Regions from separate parts of the Homo sapiens genome. Here region 2 is linked to region 1. Evidence: fine-mapped expression QTL. A gene starts in region 1. The other region holds a variant in brackets. All regions are shown on one strand. Distances are between the middles of the regions. Region 1 holds the start of RBM19 (RNA binding motif protein 19). Region 2 overlaps RBM19 (RNA binding motif protein 19).

Region 1 (10,420 bases):
GAGATCAAGGCAGCAGTAAGGCCTGATCACACCACAGCACTCCAGTCTGGGCAACAGAGCAAGACCTTGTCTCAAAAAAAAAAAAAAAAAAAAAAAAAAGGCCAGACACAGTCACTCATGCCTGTAATCCAAGCACTTTGGGAGGCCAAGGCAGGTGGATCACTTGAGGTCTGGAATTTGAGACCAGCCTGGCCAACACAGTGAAACCCATCTGTAATAAAAATACAAACAATTAGCCAGGCACGGTGGTGTGCACCTATAATCCCAGTTACCGTCTCAAAAAAAAAAAAAGACAAAACCCAAAATAAATACATAAAGATTTACTGGGCTCCCTACAATTTCACCCCTCCAAAGCCATCCTGCAGAAATGCCCACAATTAATATACATGCTTGTTGACTTTACCCTATGGTTAAGTATAAATATATGCAGATGTAGTTTATACATGATTAACATTTTAATGTATTAAAAATAATAGGTAATTTTTTCATAATGAAATATCAAAATTATAAAAGGTTACTCAAGGTAAAGGACATTTCCATCCATCCGTATACTCACTTCCTCGGTCCCCTCCCCAGAAGCAACTGCTGTTACCACTTCCTCATGTATCTTTTGAGATCGCCTTTGCTTACATAAATCATATATAGTGTCCCCTCCAAATTCCTATGTTGGAGTCTTAACTTTTCATACCTCACAAAGTGATGTTATTTGGAAATAGAGTGTTTACAGAGGTAACTATATTAAAATGAGGTCATTAGAATTAGCTTTAATCCAATGTCTTTTAAAATGGGGAAGTTTGAACATGAACTCATGGACACAGGGAGACTGTCATGTGGAGATGAAGGCTGAGATCGGGGTGACATGTCTACAGGCCAAAGAGTGTCAAAGATTGCCAGCACACCACCAGAAGTGAGACAGGGAGGAACAGATTCAACCTCACGGCTCTCAGAAGGAACCGGCGCTGCCAACACCTTCATCTCGAACTTCTAGCCTTCAGAACTGCAAGACAATACATTTGGAAATTTACGACTACCCTGGCCTACAAACATGACAAGTATCTATGTATCCTCACCCATCTCCCTCCTTTTTTTGTGTGTGTGTTTTGTTTTTACCTAAGTGAAAGCATACATAATACATTATTTAGTATATTGCTGGTTTTCACTTAACAATATATTTTGGAGATTGTCCCATGTCCCATGTGCTAGTTCTTCTCTAACAGCCCATCTCCCATTCCCTGAGCCTGCTCCTCCACTTTGCTCTGTGCCCCAGATGCAATCTGTGTGCACTGCAACATCTGTGATCATGCCTCCAGCTTCCCATTGGTTCGGCCAAGGGGAGGCTCCAGTAGGAAACTGCAGTTGGGAAGAGAAAGAGGGGACAGTGTATTTATCCCCGACACACACACACCTGTGGTTCCACAGTGGCTGTATCTCTCTATAGCTCTAGTCCTTAAAGTACGTCCCTCTTCCATGGCTCCTGGCATCACTGAAGCTCAGGAATGACATGTCCTACTCTGCCCTTCAGCCCCAGGGGTGGTGATAGCTCCCCACTGTTGCCAGGCCCTGGGGTTTGGCCATCCTTTGTTGGTTCCCTTAACCCTTCCTGTATTCATTTGCTGCAGGTGCTGTCTCAAATTACCACAAATTAGATGGCATAACAATGCAAAGTTATTCTCTCACATTTCTGGAGGCCAGAATCCCCCAAAGCACCAGCAGGGCCATGCTCCCTCCAAAACCTCCAAGGGAGAACGCTTCCTTGCTTCTTTCAGCTTCTGGTGGCTCCAGGTCTTCGTTGACTTGTGACTGCATCACTCCAGACTCTACCTCCACCTACACATGACGTTCTCTGTGTGTCCTTTAAAAGGACATGTGTCATTGGATTTAGGGTCTACCAGGATAATTCAGGATGATCTCATTTTGAGACCCTTAAGTACATTTGCAAAGACCCTTGATATGGTTTGGCTGTGTCCCCACCAAATCTCATCTTGAATTGTAGCTCCCATAATCCCCACGTGTCCTGGGAGGGACCCAGTGGGAGATAATTGAATTATGGGGGTGGTTTCCCCATACTGTTTTCGTGGTAGTGAATAAGTCTCACGAGATCTGATGGTTTTATAAGGGGAAAGCCTTTCACTTGGTTCTCATTCTCTCTTTGCCTGCCACCAGGTAAGACATCCCTTGCTCTTCCACCATGATTGTGAGGCCTCCCCAGCCATGTGGAACTGTGAGTCCATTAAATCTCTTTCCTTTATAAATTACCCAGTCTCAGGTATGTCTTCATTAGCAGCGTGAGAACAAACTAATACAACACTTTTTTGCAAATAAAGTCACATTTACAGCTTCCAGGGGTCAGGATGCCCCCAGTGTGTGTGGTGGTGAGGGGACAGGGGATCATTCATCCCACTACACTGCCCACCCTTCTGTAAATAGCTTTTTGTCCAGATTTGCTTTTGTTAAATCCTTTTGAGTATACCTCTGTGTCCTGCTGACTGATGCATTTCCTTCAAAAACATTTATAGCTACATACCTACCGTTTTTTAACAACTGCATAGAATTCTGTTGAATGGACAGACCTTAATTTACAATTAGCATTTAATGAACTCCTATTACCTGTCTCCTCCTGGTGCCCAGTGTGATGCTTTGCAAAGATGGATCTAAGGATGCCCCTATGGCAACATAATGTAGAAAGAACAAGTGGCCTCATCTATAACTCTGAACCTACACTGTGCGCTCCTCACCAGCGAGTTCTGTAGGTTTATGCTGTGGCAGATGCATGAGCTCCCTGCATTTGGGGCTCAGTAGGAAAGAGGCATATTCGAGGATGCCATGTTTGAGCTGGTCTTAGAGAGGGGATGGGAATGGGTTCAGAAAGATATTCCAGTGGCCAAAAGCACATGAAAGATGCTGTTTCATTAGTTATCGGGGAAATGCAAATCAAAACATTGAGTCACCACTGTACACCCACTAGAGTGGCTATGATTATAAAGACCCAATAACAAACACTGGAGGAGATGTGGAGATATTTGAACCTTCATATACCGCTGGTAGGAATATAAAATGGGGAAGCCACTTTGGATAACAGGTTAGCAGGTTCTAAAAAGGTTAAGCATAGAGTTACCATATGATCAGGCAATCCTACTCCTAGGAATATATCCAAGAGAAATAAGAACATATGCCCACACAGGAACTTACAGGTAAATGTTCACGGCAAGATTATTCACAGTAGCCACAAAGCGGAAACAACCCAAATGTCCATCATCAACTGATGAATAAATAAAATGTAATACATCCATATATGTAATACTATTCAGCAAAAAAAGTGTGGTGGCTCACGTCTGTAATCCCAGCACTTTGAAAGTTCAAGGCAGGTGGATTGCTTGAGCCCAGGAGTTCAAGACCAGCCTGGGCAACATGTTGAAACCTCGCCTCTACCAAAAAATTACCAAAAAAAAAAAATTAGCCAGGCATGGTGGCATGTGCCTGTAGTCCCAGCTGCTCAGGAGGCTGAGGTGGGAGGATGGCTTGAGCCTGGGAGGCGGAGGTTGCAGTGAGCTGAGATTGTGCCACTGCACTCCAGTCGGGGTGACAGAGCCCGACCCTGTCTCAAATAAATAAACAGATAAATAAAGTGCTGATTCATGCTGCAACATGGAAGAACTTTGAAAACATTATGCTAAGTGAAAGAAGTCAATTACAAAAGACTACATATTGTATTATTCCATTTACATGAAATGTCCATAACAGACAAATCCATAGAGACGGAAAGTAGATTAGTGGTTATCAGAGGGAAGGGAGAGGGAGGAATTGGAAGGTTATAGCTAAAGGGTGTGGTGTTTCTTTGGGGGTAATGAAAATGTCCTAGCATTGATTGTGGTGATGGCTGCACACCTCTGTAAATATAGTCAGCACCATTGAATTGTGCACTTTAAGTGGGTGAATTGCATGGTTTGTGATAAAGCTGTTAACAATAAGAAGGGGGGACGGAATGTCTTTTAGGTGAAGGAAATTGCAGAAGCTTGGCAGCAACGTCCAGTGCAGCTGAGGCACTGTGGGGAAACAGAAAGGAAATACCGTCATTTAAGAGTGAAAATAGGGGTTTTCATAGGATGTCTCCATCCAAGAGTAGGTACCGAGAATGCTCAGAGAAGCAATAGGAAAATAACATCCCTTTCACGTTCTCACCTCCTTAACCCCTAGCATAATAAAGAATTATTCCCATTTTATAGAAGTAGACACAAAGGCTCAGAGGCCATTTTGGCCAAGATCTCTCAGCTAGAAGATTGGCCAGCTGAGAGTTCCAAACATTAGGAAGGGAGGCAAAATGCTTGTGGGGCTGGGGTTGAAGGCGTAGAGACTCATTGTAGGGCCCTAGGCAGTCCCTAGCTCGAATCTGACTTTCCAATTCATAGTTATAAGACTTTGAGCAAGCTGCTTTACACGCACGATTCCCAGTTTATCTGCCTGCAAAATGAGAGCGTTTATTTCCAACATGTTCATTCCAAGTATTTACACAAAAGGCTCAATACTTGATTTGTGTTGGCTGGCAATCTCTCTAAACTTCACTTTCCCCATTTCTACGAGGAAGGCAAGGGTCCCTAATCTTGCCCCCGTTCTCAGGGGAGTCCTAAGGCTCAATAATAAAAATAAAATAAGAAAAAGGAGAGAACGCGATTGCCCGGTTGGCGCGACCCTTAACACCGAGCTAAACCGGCGCATGTTAGGGACCGGCGCCCCCTGCCGCCTTCTCCGCTGCATTGGCGTCTCACAGAATCCGCCCAAGGCCCTGCGCCTGCGCAAAATGCAAGCGCCCAGGCCCACCCCTTGTGGGGTGTGACCTCCCTGAGTAGTTTTGGATTAGCCACGCCTACTTCCGGACAGGTCAGGCCAAGGTCTCAGCCACGTGACTGTGTTCCGGCTCGGTAAAGATGGCGGCGCCCAGGGCGGTAGCGTGAAACTTGGTGGAAGACGCTGACCAGTCGTGTTGGAATCAAAACAGCGGGGACCCTGCGCCATGTCGCGACTGATCGTGAAGAATCTCCCGAATGGGGTGAGTGCAGAGGCAGGACTTGGGAATCTGAAATGAGACCAGCCGGGAGCTGTGAGGTAGGGAAGAGATGCCTGGAGGTGATCGAAGAATTTTTGCTCTGGGGCAGGACTCCGGGCCAATTCTGAACTCAAAGGGGGCGGGATCCTGGGCTTATCCCCATTTGATCCCGAGGAAAGAGGAATAGTGACTGCTTACGGTTTCACGGCCGGTTGTTTGGTACCTGACTCCTAACACACCTCTTCTCGGGGAGATGACAACTCCCACCTTGTGGCGAATACCCTGCTCCCACAACCTCTTTCATTCGATCACTGTTTTTTAGTTGTTGACCCGGGACATGGTCCGACACTGTATTTATATTCCTCTCCCAGTCTGGAAACTGTTGGGGAAGACATGGGGAATATTAATCTGCGGACCTGCGTTCCAATTCCCACTCCCATCCTTAGGGCAAGTAGGAATACGGAGTGGGTAAAGGGCTTTACAGCATTTATCCAGTAAGTGGGGAGTGGTGACCCAGCCATACTTTTTTGTTTCCCTGGAGCCCAGCGCAGAACCCGACACGTGGTAGGCAAAATAGGTGAATGTACGTAATATTAGATGATTAGATGCGGTGGGCTCGAATGGATCATCCTTTTTTCTCTCTCTCGCTGTTTTTTGTTCTGTTTTGTTTTTTTGTTTTTAAATGGATTACTGCTCCTTCCATCAGGTTAGACAGTGTCTCTTGATGCCTCGCTTTGTGGGATGAGGATTTTTAGCGTAGCTGCACTTCCTTTCCCTCCCAAATTCAGCTTTGTTGTGTTTCAAGTGTAGTTGATTCTCTTATCATTGTTTGTCTTATCTCTTTTTTTTCTCTCTCTTTCATGGCTTTTTTTGGTTTTGTTTTTTGTTTTTTTCTTTTTTTGTTTTTTTTTTTTAAACGGAGTCTGGCTCTGTCTCCCAGGCTGGACTGCGGTGGAGCAATCTCGGCAGTCTCGGCTCACTGCAACTTTTGCCTCCCGGGTTCTAGCGATGCTCCTGCCTCAGCCTCCCAAGTAGCTGGGACTACAGACACGCGCCACCAAGCCCGACTAATTTTTTTATTTTTAGTAGAGACATGGGGTTTCGCCATGTTGGACAAGTTGGTCTCGAACTCCTGACCTCAGGTGATCCACCGCCTCGGCCTCCCAAAGTGCTGGGATTACAGGCGTGAGCCACTGCACCTGGCCCCCATTTCTGTTCTAATGTTGTGAGTTTTTTCCTTTCCTTTTTTTTTTTTCATTTGTCAGGTGGGACAAAGGAACTTTGTAACACACAGTTTTCAAAATTCAAACAGTATAGTAGTGTATAACATGAGTAGCAAAGTCTTTGCTCTGTCCTACCTTCCCTCTCTGTCCAGGAGTAACCATCTTCATTGATTTGTTTTTGGGACTCCTCACATGTATCTCTGTATATTTGAGGAGTGTACTTTCCTCCTTTTGACCTGCCTGCCCCAGTGACTATCTGCTAGGCCTCAACTGTGAAAAATAAGGAATTTAGATCATCTGTTCCTCCTCTCCAGTGTCTGTAATATTCTTGTTTTTAATTATCCTGTTATAATCTCTGAGTAGTATACTTAAAAATATCTATTACTCATCCATCCATCAGGTTAGACATGTCTCTTGATGCCTTGCTTTGTGCGATGAGGATTTTTAGCGTGGCTGCACTTCCTTTTCTTCCCAAATTCAGCTTTGTTGCACTTCACAGTGTAGTTGACTCTCTTATCATTGTTTGTCTTATCTCATGAATGAAAGAATAATAAAAACAAGGGCAGTTGCAGCTGACACTTGGAGAGTTTACTGTGTGCCAGGCACTGTTCCAGGTGCTTTAGGTAAAGTAACATTTAATCCTCACCATATCCCTGTGAGGTAAGTTTTATTTTTACGCCCATTTTAAAGGTAAAGAAACCAAGATACAGCGAGGTACAGGGATTTGCCTGAGGTCACACACTGGTGTAATTTATAGAGCAGGGATTGAATTGAGCAATCTTTAGTTTAGGGATTGAATTGAGGAAATAATTAGTAGTGAGTACTTGTGATATTGCTGACACTGTAGATAGAGGTGGATAAGCCTGTGTCCTTATTTTTAATGGGACTTGCAGGCTAGCAGAAAAGAGAGGCACCAGATCATTACGATGCAAGGTGCATCACTGACATGTGAACCGAGTGCTGTGGGAGCACAGTGAGGGTTGGTTATCTCGTCCATCTAAGGCATCTAAGAAAGGCCTCCTGGAATAGGAGATGATTGAACTGAGAATGAGGAGTTAGCCAGGGCCTGTCTTGGGAAATATCACCCAGAGGGGACAACCAAAGTAAAACCTCGGAAGTGAGAAGGCTGTGAGAAATTTGTCAAAGCGTGGTGCTGAAGAGGTTGGTCAGGGCAGATCTTGAAGAATTGCATGTTTTCCTTTAGGTGCTCGTCCTTGAGACTTTGGTGCCAGAAAGTCACCGAAAGGTTTTTGGCAAAGGAATGATGGATTCAGACTTGAGCCAGGTCTCTCCCAGGCACTGAGGAATTGAATTCACTGTCTTATATTTCTGAATTGAGTCACAAACCTTGATTCTGTAGGCCTTGGGCAGATCATTTATCCCTTATGAGTTTCATTTTCTCTATAAAATGTGGACAAAAATTCCTAACTCACAGTGTGATTGAGATTTTGATTAGATCAGTTAGTAAGAAGCTACCTCAGAAAATGTCATCTTCTGGCTGGACTGCCAAGGCCTCTAGCTTCTTGCATTTTCAAACTTATTTTGGCTGTTCGTGGGGCCCTGAATGTCCCCTCAACTCCACTACCACACACACAAATATCCCAGTATCTGCTTAGAAAACTGAGTTGTGAGGGTAGCCTGGCTGCAGTGAAGATGGTGAGAAGCCAGGAGCCTGTTTTCCATAGTGTGGGGCTTCTTGACCAAATTATAATAATAGTGTGTTAGTTTTTTAGTGCAGCTATAGCAAATTAGCACAAACTTAGTGGCTTAAACAATCCAGACAATCCTTATCTTACAGTTTTGCAGGTCAGAAATCCTAAAATCAAGGCTTTGGCAGGGCTGCAGTCCTTCTGGAAGCTCTGTGGGAATATCTGTCCCTTTGCCTTTTTTCAGCTTCTAGAAGCACCTGCCTTCCTTGGTTCATAGCTATATACTCCATATTTGGAGCCAATAGCATAGCATCTTCCAATCTTTCTGTTTCCATCTTCTCTGATCTTCCCGCCTCCCTCTCATAAGGACCCTTGAGGTGACATTGGACCTGGCTGCATAATCCAGATCATCTCCCCATCTCCATATCAGTCACACCTGACAAGTCCCTTTTGCCTTGTAAGGTAACATATCCACAGTTTCCAGGGATTAGGATGTGGGCATCTTTTGGGGGGGCTTTATTAACAAAGATATATATAGCTTACCATGCCTGTTCATTCTTTCATTTATTCCTACAAGTATTTATTAGGTATCTACTATGTAGCAGACGTAATACTGCTTCTGTAATTGGTCTTATCCTCATAGGAGCCCCATAGGGTAGGAAGATGTCATTTGCAGCCATTATGAGTCATGATTTCCACATCAGTGAGTGGTTAAGGGACTTTCTCAAGGCCACACAACTCGTGCTAGAGTCAGAGCTGGAACCTGTTGTAACTAGAAAAGTACACTCTGCCCCTCTTCATCTAAGGCCACCCTTGGAGAATCTCGTGGCCTCAGGTTTCCAGCCCATTTTGTCCCCTTGCTCTGGGGACTTTCCAGTTCGTCTCTCATTCCTTTCCCTCTGTCCTAGATGAAGGAGGAGCGTTTCAGGCAGCTGTTTGCCGCCTTCGGCACGCTGACAGACTGCAGCCTGAAGTTCACCAAAGATGGCAAGTTCCGCAAGTTTGGTTTTATTGGCTTCAAGTCCGAGGAAGAGGCCCAGAAGGCACAGAAGCATTTCAACAAGAGCTTCATCGACACATCCCGGATCACAGTGAGTGGGCAGGAGTCTCACCCTTACCTTCCTGTCAAGTGTGACGTTGTTTGATCTTTCACTCAGCACTTGAGTTCAAAGACCGTCCCTCTTCACTTTGTGATGTCTTTGGTTTTCTTCCTCACCGATTCACACACTTTCATGTGCATACAAATCACCTGAGAGCTTATTATAACAGCTTCCTGGGCCCGTCCCCAGAGCATCTGATTCAGTGCATGGAGTCAGGACCCAAGAATTCACACATCCAACAAGCCCTCAGGTGACGACCATGCTGCTGGTCTGAGGCCCACACCTTGAGAACCACAGCTCTACCTCATCCATTCACTCATGCATTTAGCAAGCACTCAATGATGCTGGGAGTTTAGAGAAAAAGGTGATGCCTCAGCCCCTGTCCTCATGGAGCCTGCTGTCTCTGGGCAGGCAGGGGGCTGACAGGTCAGCAGGCTGCTTTGGCTCAGTGACATCAGTGCTATGATAGGGTGAGCCCCAGGGACTGTGGGAGAACAAAGATCTATAGCCGGACCAGGGAGGAGTCAGGAAAGCTTCCTGGAGGAGTGGGCTCCACTCAGGTCACTCGTGTATTTAGTGACTTCGTAAAAACATCTCTAATGCTTTGTTGAGAAGGAAAAAACAGATGATGGATAAATATATATATGTCTCGTGATCCTATATAGACACAATCGTATTCCTCTATCCATACATATATGATAAATGCATAGAAGGCCATAGGATAGGATTTGTACCAAAATACTAATCATTCCTCTCCATGAGTGATAGGAATTGGAGTACATCTTTTTTAACTTCCATTGTACTTTTGTATATTATTTGAATTTTGTACCGTGAGCATGTCATTATTATAGAGATAACAAGCCTATTTTGGAAGTGTGCACAAAAGGGATTGTAACTGGCCAGGTGTGGTGGCTCCTGCCTATAATACAAGCACTTTGGGAGGCTGAGGTGGGAGGATCACTTGAAGCCAGGAGTTCAAGACCAGCCTGTGCAACATAGCAAGACTGCGTCTTTACAAAAATAAAAAAAAAAATTAGCCGGGCATGGTGACATGTGCCTGGAGTCCTAGGTATTCAGAAGGCTGAGACAAGAGGATCACTTGAGCCCAAGAGTTTGAGGCTGCAGTGAGCTATGATCATGCCACTGCAGTCCAGCCTGGGCAACGGAGTGAGACCCTGTGTCTTAAAAAGGATTGCAACCAGATGGCAGCTCCTTCCCCCAGGGGCAGTGGTTGGTTGACCAGCGTCAGCCTTAACTGTGGCTGGGAGTGGCTTGCGGTGGTGGATGCCCCAGTAACCAGCGCTCTCAAAGTCCTCTCAGAGGAGTGTATTGGAGGTTTTAGGGCCTGAATAGTGCGTCAGCTCAGGCTGGGTCTCCAGTACTCTTCCGTCCCTCCAGTGGTCACCC
Region 2 (10,420 bases), 150 kb after region 1:
TCCTCCAAGCCAAGCTCTGACCTGCTGTGAGGAAGCAGCACAGGAGACCCTTTCTCTCTTTTTTCTCAAGGGAATCCTTTCCCCTGCGGGTAGAAGATGGGGAGGGGATGGCCAGGGAAGCAGGAGAGTTTCTGGGGGTGCGAGGGAGGCAGCCCCGCCATGGTGATGCTGAGACTAACTCTAGTGTTTCTCTCTCCTCCTCATTTCCCCTTTGATTCTCTCCCCTACTCCTTATCTTTCTTCATTGCCCCATCCTCTCTCCACCTCCCTCTGTATCTTCTCTCCCTCCGCTCTCCCCAACTTCCCTCTCTTGCATTCTCTCGCTTCTGTTCTGTCTCCCCGCACCCTTGTTCTGCTCATCTCTCCCCTCTCCCTCCTTCCTCTGTCATTTCTCTCTTCCTGCCTCCCAACCCTCTCGGCTGTTCTTTTCTCCTCTCTTGCCATCTGGGCTCCCACAGAGCCCCCGAAGAAAAAGCGGTCTGTGGTGTTGGACGAGATCCTGGAGCAGCTGGAAGGCAGTGACAGCGACAGCGAGGAGCAGACCCTTCAGCTGTGAGCTGGCACCGAGAGGGTGTGTGGCTCCGGGGCCCTGGGGACCGGGACAGCCGCTCCAGCTTCTGCACTCACCACCATGTGGGCTGGGGGGCGGGGCGGGGAGCGGCAGGCGGCCCCACCCTGCACTGGTCCAAGGTCGGAGGAGACAGGGGATGAGGAAGGCCTCAGGCCACTGCCCAGCGGCCCAGGCATCCTGGGTTTCACCAGTGACGCGTTCTAGCAGACACTGACTGCGCACCTGCTCTGTAGCAGACACGGAAGAGTCCAAGGGAGCAGCCACGTTAGGAAGAGAGACTTGGGAACAGCTACACAGGGAGCTAGAACCCCTGCTCCCCCTGTCCCCACCCCAGGAGAGTAAGGGGACGAGGGCCAGCTCTCTGGCATCAGGCTGCTTGGACATGAAACCCCGTCTCCAAGCTCAAGCTGGGAGACCCTGGCCCAGTTTCCTTATCTCCTTGGGCCCAGCCTTCCCCTTGCTAGCTAGTTCTTACTTCATAAGGTTTTAGAGAGAAATAAACGCAGTAATGCATGAAGAGTGCCGGGCATGGTGCTGAGCCCTGTTCCTGCTCTCCCTCCAGGGCTGCTGAGCTAGAATTCCCACCTATGTCTTTCCAAGGGACTGTTCACGGCTTGGGACTTGGTCTCTGTCCTGCCCCATCCTCGTCACTTGGGACCACGAGCCCTGGTTCAGTCACCCAGGGAAGCCTCCCAGCGGCTCATGAAGCATCGAGCTCCAAGCCCAGATGCCAAGCTCCCTGGCTGAGCTGAATGATGTCACTCATGGTGGACGCGTTCTGCTCACGGGCCCAGAGCCCTGTGAAATGCATCAAGGTCCTCTCCGCTGGCCAGCAGCATCCCCAGGCTTCTCTCAGGCGCCCGTGTTCACATTTTCTCCAGCCTGAGACGCAGCCTCCCGCCTGGAAGGGCCTGTGCCAGCACCAGGCAGAGGGCAAGACGGAGAGGGCAGAGCAAGAACTGCACTGCATCTCACTGCAGTCTGAATCTAGACATCGCCATTCCCCGAGGTGCGACCTCAGACTAATGACATCCTGGCTGAGCCTCTGTTTTTCTCTCTAGGAAATGGGGGTGATAATTGTGCCTACCTCAGATAGACAGTGCCAGAATTAAGTGAGTCAAGCCAAGTAAAGCCCAGAGAAGATTCTCATCAGCACTTTTGTTTTCTTCTTCATTTAGAGTCACTGGGTGGGCCTCCAAGTGAGAGTTTGGGAATCTTCAGACTCTGTGCATAAAACATGGTCTGTGCATTTTGGTGGGGATGAGGTTCCAGTCTTCATCCAGTTTTCGGAGTGGCCCAGAGCCCAGGCAAGGCAACACAGAGCTGGCAGCCTGCACGACCAAGCATGCGCCTCGTGTCCTCTAGGGCAGGCACCCCCTTAGCCATCCAAGCTCATCCCTGAGAATTCGTGGAAACAAAAGACACAGAATGGCTCGTTCCCCAGCCGTTTATTTTTAATTTTTTTAGAGACAGGGTGCAGTGGCATGATCATAGCTCACTGCAGCCTCAAGTGGTCCTCCCACCTTAGCCTCCCAAAGCTCTGGAATTACAGGTGTGAGCCATCACGCCCAGCCACATTCTCCAGCTTTTATAGTGGGGTGGCTCACAGAGTCACATCAACCACAGCCTTCTGGATGTGGGGGCTGAACAGTGTCTCTGTTAAACCACACCCAGGCCGACCCTCAGGTGACCAGGGTCCCAAGTTGCCGTAGGTCATGCGGAATGACAGGGCTGGAGACCTACCCCATGCCTTCCCACTGCTCAGATCTGTGAGCTGGATCGTGTCCTGTTCGGCGGCACATGGCTCCTTCTGGCTGAACCTTCTGGTCTATACAATTTGTACTCACATTTCCACACCACCAGAGCCAGCAGGGATGGCTGGCTGATCACCAAAACTCAGGTGTAGACCCACGGGCCTGGTGCAGAGGCAGGCATCTTTTGGCACTGACTTAACTGGCCCAGAGGATGCTTCTAGAACCTCCCCCCAGAGCAGGATTCAGCATCATCCAGGGCTTGGTGCGGGGTGAGCAGACATGGGCTCTGTATTCGGATCTGCCTGGGCTCCGTAACAGTCCACCACTCTCCAGCCTCGTGAGCCTCGGCAAGTGACTTAACCTGCTGAGTCCTCAGTCTCCTCATCTTTAAAATGGAGTGATGCAAGTAGCATCTCCGTCACAAAAGCGTTATCAGGCCCAGGCAGCTGCAGGCCCCTGCCAGGGCTCACACAGTGAAATGATGGGAATCAGGGCTGTCCAACCCTTCCTGCGTCACTGCCTTCCCTGTGGCCAAAAGAAAGCTGGTGAGCTGGGGAAGGTTCAGGAACTGCAGGAGAGTGAAAGGTAGCAAGAGGAGGGAGAGCTTCCAGCCACTCGCCAGGCCTGGCCTGGAATTGGCAGTGGGGAGTGAGGCAGCCTAGAGGCCATATACTGAGCCTGGCCCCTGCACCCCTGCCCCAGGCACGCACTGTTTGGAAGGGGCAGATCTGTGAGCACACAGGAGTAGTGGAGTCCACTCCCACAGAGATCTCAGGGTGCCCCTTCATGCCGCGCCCACCAGACTGCACCCTCATCTCCTCTCTTCCGGCTCAGCTGTCCTCGTGCAGCCAGTGTGGCCTGACTGATCCGTGAGCTGGATCATGTCAGTCTGCAGCTTCAAACCCTCTAGGGCCTCCCTGACGCATGGAAAGTCGAGTCCCGCTGCTCACCCCAGCACCGAGGCCCCACCTCACCTGACCCTGCACTCGCTGTCCCGGCCTTCCTCCCTGCAGGCTCCCACCCCAGGGCCCTCGAGCTGCCTCTTCCCTCTGCCTGGGATGCCCTTCCCTCACATTCTTCCTGCGTGGCGCCTTTTTATTTTCCTTTGAGATCTTAAATCACGCTTGTCCAACCCAAGCTTGGGCTTTGAATGCAGCCCAACACAAATTTGTAAACTTCCTTAAATTTGCAATTTTTTTTTTTTTTTTTAGTTCATCAGTTATCACTAGTGTTATTGTATTTTATGTGTGGTCCAAGACAGTTCTTCCAGGGTGACCCAGGGAAGCCAAAAGTTTGGATGCCCCGGTTTAACTTCTGCTTCCTCACTGAGGGAGACAGACTCCTGATCAGTTCGTCTGCAGTAACCACACCCAGCTCCTCTTTACACCCAGCCCCAACCCCCTATCCCCCATCCCCTGTCCCTCTCAGTCACAGCACTCAGTACAGGGGACAACCTGGAGTGTGAGCAAGATCTCAGTGACCCAGAGCCTTTTACCCTGTCAAAAATAACTGTTTTAAACGGGAACTAGGAAAGCAATTAAGATTTTTGTTACAATCATCATCATTGTTCTAGAATGCAGTAAAGTACAGCCAGGTAGCCATAAAGCGGAGCTCGGGAAAAGTCATTTGCCTGGCCCAGAGGAGGGGCTTCATCTCTTCTTCCTTTGGAGAAGAGGGACTGGTGAAAGCGTCTTACGAGAAATTCCTCCATCCAGCATGTGGGGGTTGAACTGGGAGACTCTAAGCCTTTGAGCCAAGGCAGCAAGGGACTGAGTCACCGCTGTCACTGGGAGGGGGACACGGGAGCTTTCTGAAAGGCGGCTTCGGTTGTTTTTGAAGCAATGATGGGACGTTGGTAGACACAGACACCCAGAAGATCTGGGAGAGAAACTCCAGAAATAACCCACAGAGGTGGCACTGAGGAGGGAGCACTCCTCCAGGGCGGTGAGCCTCCTGACCCGGCTCAGGACTGACTGCTGCAGGGGGCAGGAAACTGCCTCAGCCACATCTCAGGGGGCTGTGACCCTTCCCTGCCGATATGGTCACCAGAGAGCCGGGAAAGAGAACCATAACAGGCTGGACCAGAGCACTTGCGTAGGAAAGGAGAGGTGACACCAAGAGGCCAGAGGGGCCAAAGGGACACAGGGAGGTGGGAGGTCAGTAGGACACGTGCCTCAGAAAAGCCAGAGGCACACATCTGGATGAGGCCTGTGACCCGGTGTTCAGAGTGTGGCTCAGTTAGCTGGGAGGAACGGGGACAGGCTGTTTCCAGAGTGGAGGGCTGGCTGGAACCGCATCTGCTGTCCTCACGTCCGTCTCCCACCCGCTGTGGGTCTCAGGGGCCTGGCCCCTTGAGCTGTGTCTCTGAAACTCCCTTATCAAGAGGCTTGTGTTCAGTTTGGCCAGCAGTGGGCACTAGCGGGCGCCTGGAAGGCTGGTAGAAGAGAAACTCCAGGCATCCCGCCCTCTCCCTCTGTCCCACGTGGCGTCTCCACCAAGGGTCCACCCCTGGATGGGTGAGGAGGGCCCTGGCATCTCTACTATAGGATACACACAGTCAGACTGCAGGAGGGAGATGGGTGGTCAGACAGGTCCTGGAGAACAGACAGGGGTGAGGGACAGTGGGGCCTGGAGGAGGGACAGGAGTGAGAGACAGTGGGGACGGGAGGAGGAGAGCGGAATGCACAGGCCCTGACTCCAAAGGCCTGCGTTAGAATCTCTAGGCTCTCAGTGTCTCCAGGCCTTGCGTTCCATGTCTTTCAAATGGGTGCAGGAATTCCTGCCTCATTGGATTGGTTAAGACAGAAACAGAAGGTCATGAATGGAAAGTAGTTAGCAGACTGTGTCATGCCTAGTGAGTACTTAGTAATGGTAGTTGCCATCATTATTGTGAACATAACTTCAAAACAAGGCAAGCTTGTGGGGCTGCACCCAGCAGATGTCAGGCCAGCTGGGCCCACGTCCAGAGGCTGGGGCGGGATAGGGACTCACAGGGCGCTGCGCCATGTTGGGGAGGAGCCTATGATCCAGGAAGGAGCCTGTAGGAGGTGCCCCCCTGCCCACTGGCCCCAGTAGGCAAACCAGCACCTGGCTCTTCCTGCACAGAACCAAAGTTCAAGCCCAAATGGGCCAATGGTTGTGGGGAAACAGGTGAGCACCCCCACAGGAGCAGCTGCCTGTCTATTGCTGTGTCTGTGTGTCTGTTCCTAACCCTTTCTTTTTTTTTTTTTTTTTTTTTTTTGAGACAAAGTCTCGCTCTGTTCCCCAGGCTGGAGTGCAGTGGCGTGATCTGGGCTCACCTCCCTGGTTCAAGCGATTGTCCCGCCTCAGCCTCCCAAGGCTGGGATTACAGGTATGCACCACCACGCCCGGCTAATTTTGTATTTTTCATAGAGACTGGGTTTCACCATGTAGACCAGGCTGGTCTCGAATTCCTGACCTCAAGTGATCCACCTACCTCGGCCTCCCAAAGTGTGGGGATTACGGGTGTGAGCCACCACGCCCGGCTAATTTTTTGTATTTTTAGTAGACAGGGTTTCACCATGTGGGCCAGGCTGGTCTTGAACTCCCAACCTCAAGTGATCCACCCACCTTGTTCTCCCAAAGTGCTGAGATTACAGGTGTGAGCCACCATGCCCAGCCTGTTCCTAACCCTTTCAACTGGGGGGTCTCAAGTGGGTGAGGACTCCATGGCCACGGCAGCAGAACTGTCTCTTCTGAAAACCAGACTCCGGGGCCCCTGGGTCAGCACCTCTAGGTCATTCCACAGACTTACACAGTTTAAAGAAAGAGCCAGCGAACATGGGGTGATCCTGGGGTGCCACTGGGATCCCAAGCCAGGCCCGGAGGTCTGCCTGTTTCGTCCCCAGAAACTTGAGCTGGCATCCTCCGCTGGTTTGCACTGGGCACGGGGACTGGAGAGCCACCAGGCCACTGA[G/A]CGCAGCATGCTATCACTTCTCAGGAAGTTGTGAGGGTGAGGAGAATAGCCGGGCCCACTCTGCAGAGGGGAGGAACAGGCACAGGCTAGAGGCACGGGCTGATAGAGTGAGTCCTCTCCCTCATTCATTCATTCATTCATTCATTCATCCATCAGACACCTGCTGGGCATCTGCTGTGTGCGAGACACTGTGCTGGGTGCCCCAGACACAAGACAGAAACTCGGGTCGCTCTGTGTGCCTCCACACTGGCCTTCCCTGCTGCGTGGACGCAGGCTCTGTCTCCTAGGCTTTAAGCCCCATGCATCAGGTGGAAGACAATTTCCAGCAGCCTCTGCCCGCTTGTTTTTCCTCCTCTCCTTTTCCTGCCGCCTTGGTCTTTTTTGTCTTTTGTGCAGGGCCGTCTCTCGCAGCGCCCGTCTGTGCTCCGCAGCGTCTAGGAAAGGATTAGTGTGAGCAGAGCACGCAGGCTTTGGTGAACAGAGCCGAGCTTGGTTTCAACATCTAATTCAATTTGTTCTGCCGAGATTGAAATATGAAATGGTTGCCAGTCAAACGTTCAAAGGACGGGGAAGGGAGAGTGAGCGCATGCTGAAATTTAAATTTTAATGAAAATGACTTTAACCCTTTGGTACACCTTGCAAAATGTAACCCATCCTCCCATCCTGTGAAAGCGGCCTCTCGGGTTAGAGCTTTTCCACCCACTTCTCTTCCACTGAGCTTCACTAATAATATGTAATCATTTTTTTCAGCCGTCTTAATAATAAAAGATTAATAGAATGCTTGCATAATAATAATTTATTCACCCATGCCGCCTAGGCCATTGAAATAGTCACCTTGCCTAGATGACTTTCCCAAGCCCCATCCTAGACAAGCCCCGGCCCCTCGTTAGATTCACTCGTCACACCGAACACCTCCCTAGCTCCTTACAGCTGTGAACAGTTTCTGTGTTTTTATTTCATGTCTGACCTCTCTCTCTGGACCGGAAGTCCCAGGAGAGCAAGGTCTGTGCCCATTTTGTGCGTGCTGCATCGTGGAGTAGATGCTTAGTAAATACTCGAGGAAGGAATCAGTGGCCCCACTTTGTCCTTTTAGCAACTGTGAGAGGTAAGTTGATGGGAGATGTAGAAATGGAGAGGTGGGTGACATTCCCAAGATGGCGCTGCACAGAGGGCTGCCACCAGGCTCACACTCAGCTCGCTCTGGCACAAGCCCAAGCCCCTACCTCCCCAGAGCAGTGAGGGCAGTTCCCACATGCAGGGGGCCCGGCCCTATGCTGGGTTTCAGAGGCACACCCTGTGCTCTCGCTCCTGCTGCAGGGCCTGAACTGCTGTCTCCTCTTTACAGCGAGGGCAGGCCCAATGTGTGCCAGCTCGAGCCTTATCCTCAAGGCAGCAAGAGCAGGCCCAATGTGTGCCGACTCGAGCCCTGTCCTCAAGGCGGTGTGGGTGAAGGGCTCTCTCTCCTCACCCCCAGTGAGATTCTCCTATTCAGCTCCTGCTTGCCATGGAACCCCTAGTGTGTTTTTTGTTTTGTTTTTAAATATCAAATGCCATCAGTGCCGGACCAGTGGGCATGCGTGGCAGCTCATTATGGCTGTGGACAGACAGTGCCAGGCATTGACCAGGCATCATAGGTTTTCAGGGTAGAGTGGGATGATGGGGGCAGCCCTGAGACCACCTTCAGGACAGTTGGCTTCCAAGGACTGAGTCCTTGGCTTCATCCTCCAGGGCTCATACAGACCAGGAGCGCAAGGGAGAGGTTCAAACCTGAAACACCCAGCAAATGTGTGTTGAGCTTATGTGCACCAGGCATGGCCATGATGCTGGGAATGCAGGAGTTGACACAGCAGATAAGACTCCCTGGCCTCGAGGAGCTGGTAGTCAAATGTGGGGAGACCCAGACATGAGTGGGTGGAGGATTGCTTCCCTGGCACTGCTGAGGCTCCATTCTCTCTGGGGATGTCTGGCAGGGTCAAGGAAGGGCTCCCTGAGGAGGTGGCATGTGAGCAGAGCTGGGAGGAAGGGGACAGCTCTGTGTGCTCAAGGGAGAGTGAGGGGGACAGCCCGGGCCCCAGAAAAAGCCAGGGAGAGTGGGCAGGGGCCTGCCAACCCGGCTCAGGCTTGGGTGTCAAGTCTGGGCCTGTGGAGGGGAGCAGAGCCGGCCCAGTCTGCCACCATGTTAAGGATCAATAGCAGAAGGTCAAGGACTGAAGCAGGGACAGGTGTTCAGAAGCCATTGCAGTGGCCAGGAGAGCAGGGAGGTGGTGACTCAGAGCAGGGAGGTGGCAGTGGAGGGGTGAGGTGGCCCAAGCCTGTAGACAGACTGAAAATGCAGCCAGTGGCCTAAAGGTTTGGCTGTGGGGTGTGCACAACCAAGGCTAGCGCCCTGGCTCCAGCCCAAGCAGTGGGAAGAAGGAAGCTAGTGTGCGCTGAGACCATTGCAGGAAGAGCTGGCTTGGAGGGAAGCAGGAACTGGCTTTAAACTCGGTAAGCTGTTGACTGCTAAGAGGTGGAGAACACACCGGAGGATACGTGTCTCAGGTTGAGGAGAGAGGGTTGGACCGAGGTATAACAGGAAATTATCCTTCTTTGGTTAAGAAATCTAAAAGGGGCCAGCCTCGGTGCTTCACTCCTGTAATCCCGGCACTTTGGGAGGCTGAGGTGGGAGGATCGCTTTGAGGCCAGGAGTTCGAGACCAGCCTGGGCAACATAGGGAGACCCCATCTCTACAAATAATTTTTAACATTAGCCGGCTGTGGTAGTGTGGGCCTGTGGTCCCAGCTACTCAGGAGGCTGAGGTGGGAGGATCACTTGAGCCCAGGAGGTCGAGGCTGCAGTGAGCCATGATCACACCATCGCACTCCAGCCTGGGCAATGGAGTGAGATGCTGTCTCCCAAAAAAAAAGGGAAAAAAAAAGAAATCTAAGAGTCAGCATGGGAACTAACAGCCCCGTGTAGACAGACCTGGGAAATCTCATAGCTTCAATGCTTCAAGTTAATTTTTTTATTTTATTTTTTTTTTTTTTGAGATGGAGTCTCACTCTGTCGCCCAGCCTGGAGTGCAGTGGCGCGATCTTGGCTCACTGCAGCCCCTGCCTCTCTGGGTTCAAGCAGTCCTCCCACTTCATCCTCCCAAGTAGCTGAGATTACAGGCATGCACCACTATGCCTGGCTAAGTTTTGTATCTTTAGTAGAGGTGAGGTTTTGCCATGTTGGCCAGACTGGTCATGAACTCCTGACCTCAGATAATCCTCCTGCCTCGTCCTCCCAAAGTGCTGGGATTACAGGCATGAGCCACTGCACAGGCCTCAAGTTCATTTTGAAGCCACTTCTAGATGGTTCCAAACTCCTTTGGCCCCAGAACCCGTTTCCCAAACAAATGTCTTAAACAGATTAAGCAAAACTGCTTTGTTCCAAGTCAGGGTACAGGCCTGACCTCCCCCACCCAGACTCCTCTTCCCCCTCAACACCTCAGTGATTTGAAAAACACTGACCTAGGCCTGGCGCGGTGGCTTACGCCTGTAATCCCAGCACTTTGGGAGGCCAAGGTGGGTCATCGCAAAGTCAGGAGATGGAGACCATCCTGGCTAACATGGTGAAACCCCATCTCTACTAAAAATATAAAAAATTAGCCGGGCATGGTGGCACGTGCCTGTAGTCCCAGCTACTCGGGAGGCTGAGGCAGGAGAATCACTTGAACCCGGGAGGTAGAGGTTGCAGTGAGCCGAGATCGTGCCACTGCTCTCCAGCCTGGACAACAGAGTGAGACTCCATCTCGAAAAAAAATATATTGAACTAAAAAATGTCTCCCAAAGCACAGAGCACGGACCTCTGTGCTTCAGGAGATGGTTTAGGTGGCCCACACACTTTTCTTTTTAATTTTTAACTCACAAGTTTATTTTCACATGTATGCCACAAATACAAACCTGTATTTGTTTAGGTCATCAAACCTATGGTGTTGCTAAGCTCTAAGGAATACCGGTGAATTCGTATAAAGAAAAGTATTAAAAACATGAATTTCGTGAGGCAAAGTAGTAAAGAAGCGACGTGAATGATCAAAATCAGGGGTTGGCAAACCATGGCCCTCTTTTTTTTTTTTTTTTTTTGTGCTGCTGTTGCCTGGTTTTGTGAATAAAGTTTTATTGGAATACAGCCATG

Evidence for each region.
Region 2: its variant is fine-mapped to the expression of RBM19 in whole blood (TOPMed, PIP above 0.99). The same link has a PIP of 0.9 or more in subcutaneous fat.

Annotation. Positions count from the first base shown.
Region 1 is chr12:113,960,816-113,971,235 of GRCh38, reverse strand. It overlaps RBM19 (RNA binding motif protein 19), which reads left to right and starts at 4,911. Exons shown (of 24, transcript NM_016196.4): 1 at 4,911-5,044; 2 at 8,822-9,004. The coding sequence starts at 5,009. RefSeq lists enhancers at 4,605-4,674, 4,633-5,560, 5,561-6,489, 8,460-8,509, 8,650-8,699.
Region 2 is chr12:113,813,360-113,823,779 of GRCh38, reverse strand. RBM19 (RNA binding motif protein 19) reads left to right here. Exons shown (of 24, transcript NM_016196.4): 24 at 459-1,723. The coding sequence ends at 556. Among named protein-coding and RNA genes, the nearest start is that of LINC01234, 45 kb to the right of the region's middle. RefSeq lists enhancers at 3,979-4,904, 4,905-5,832. The variant G/A (reference allele first, on the strand shown) is at 6,263.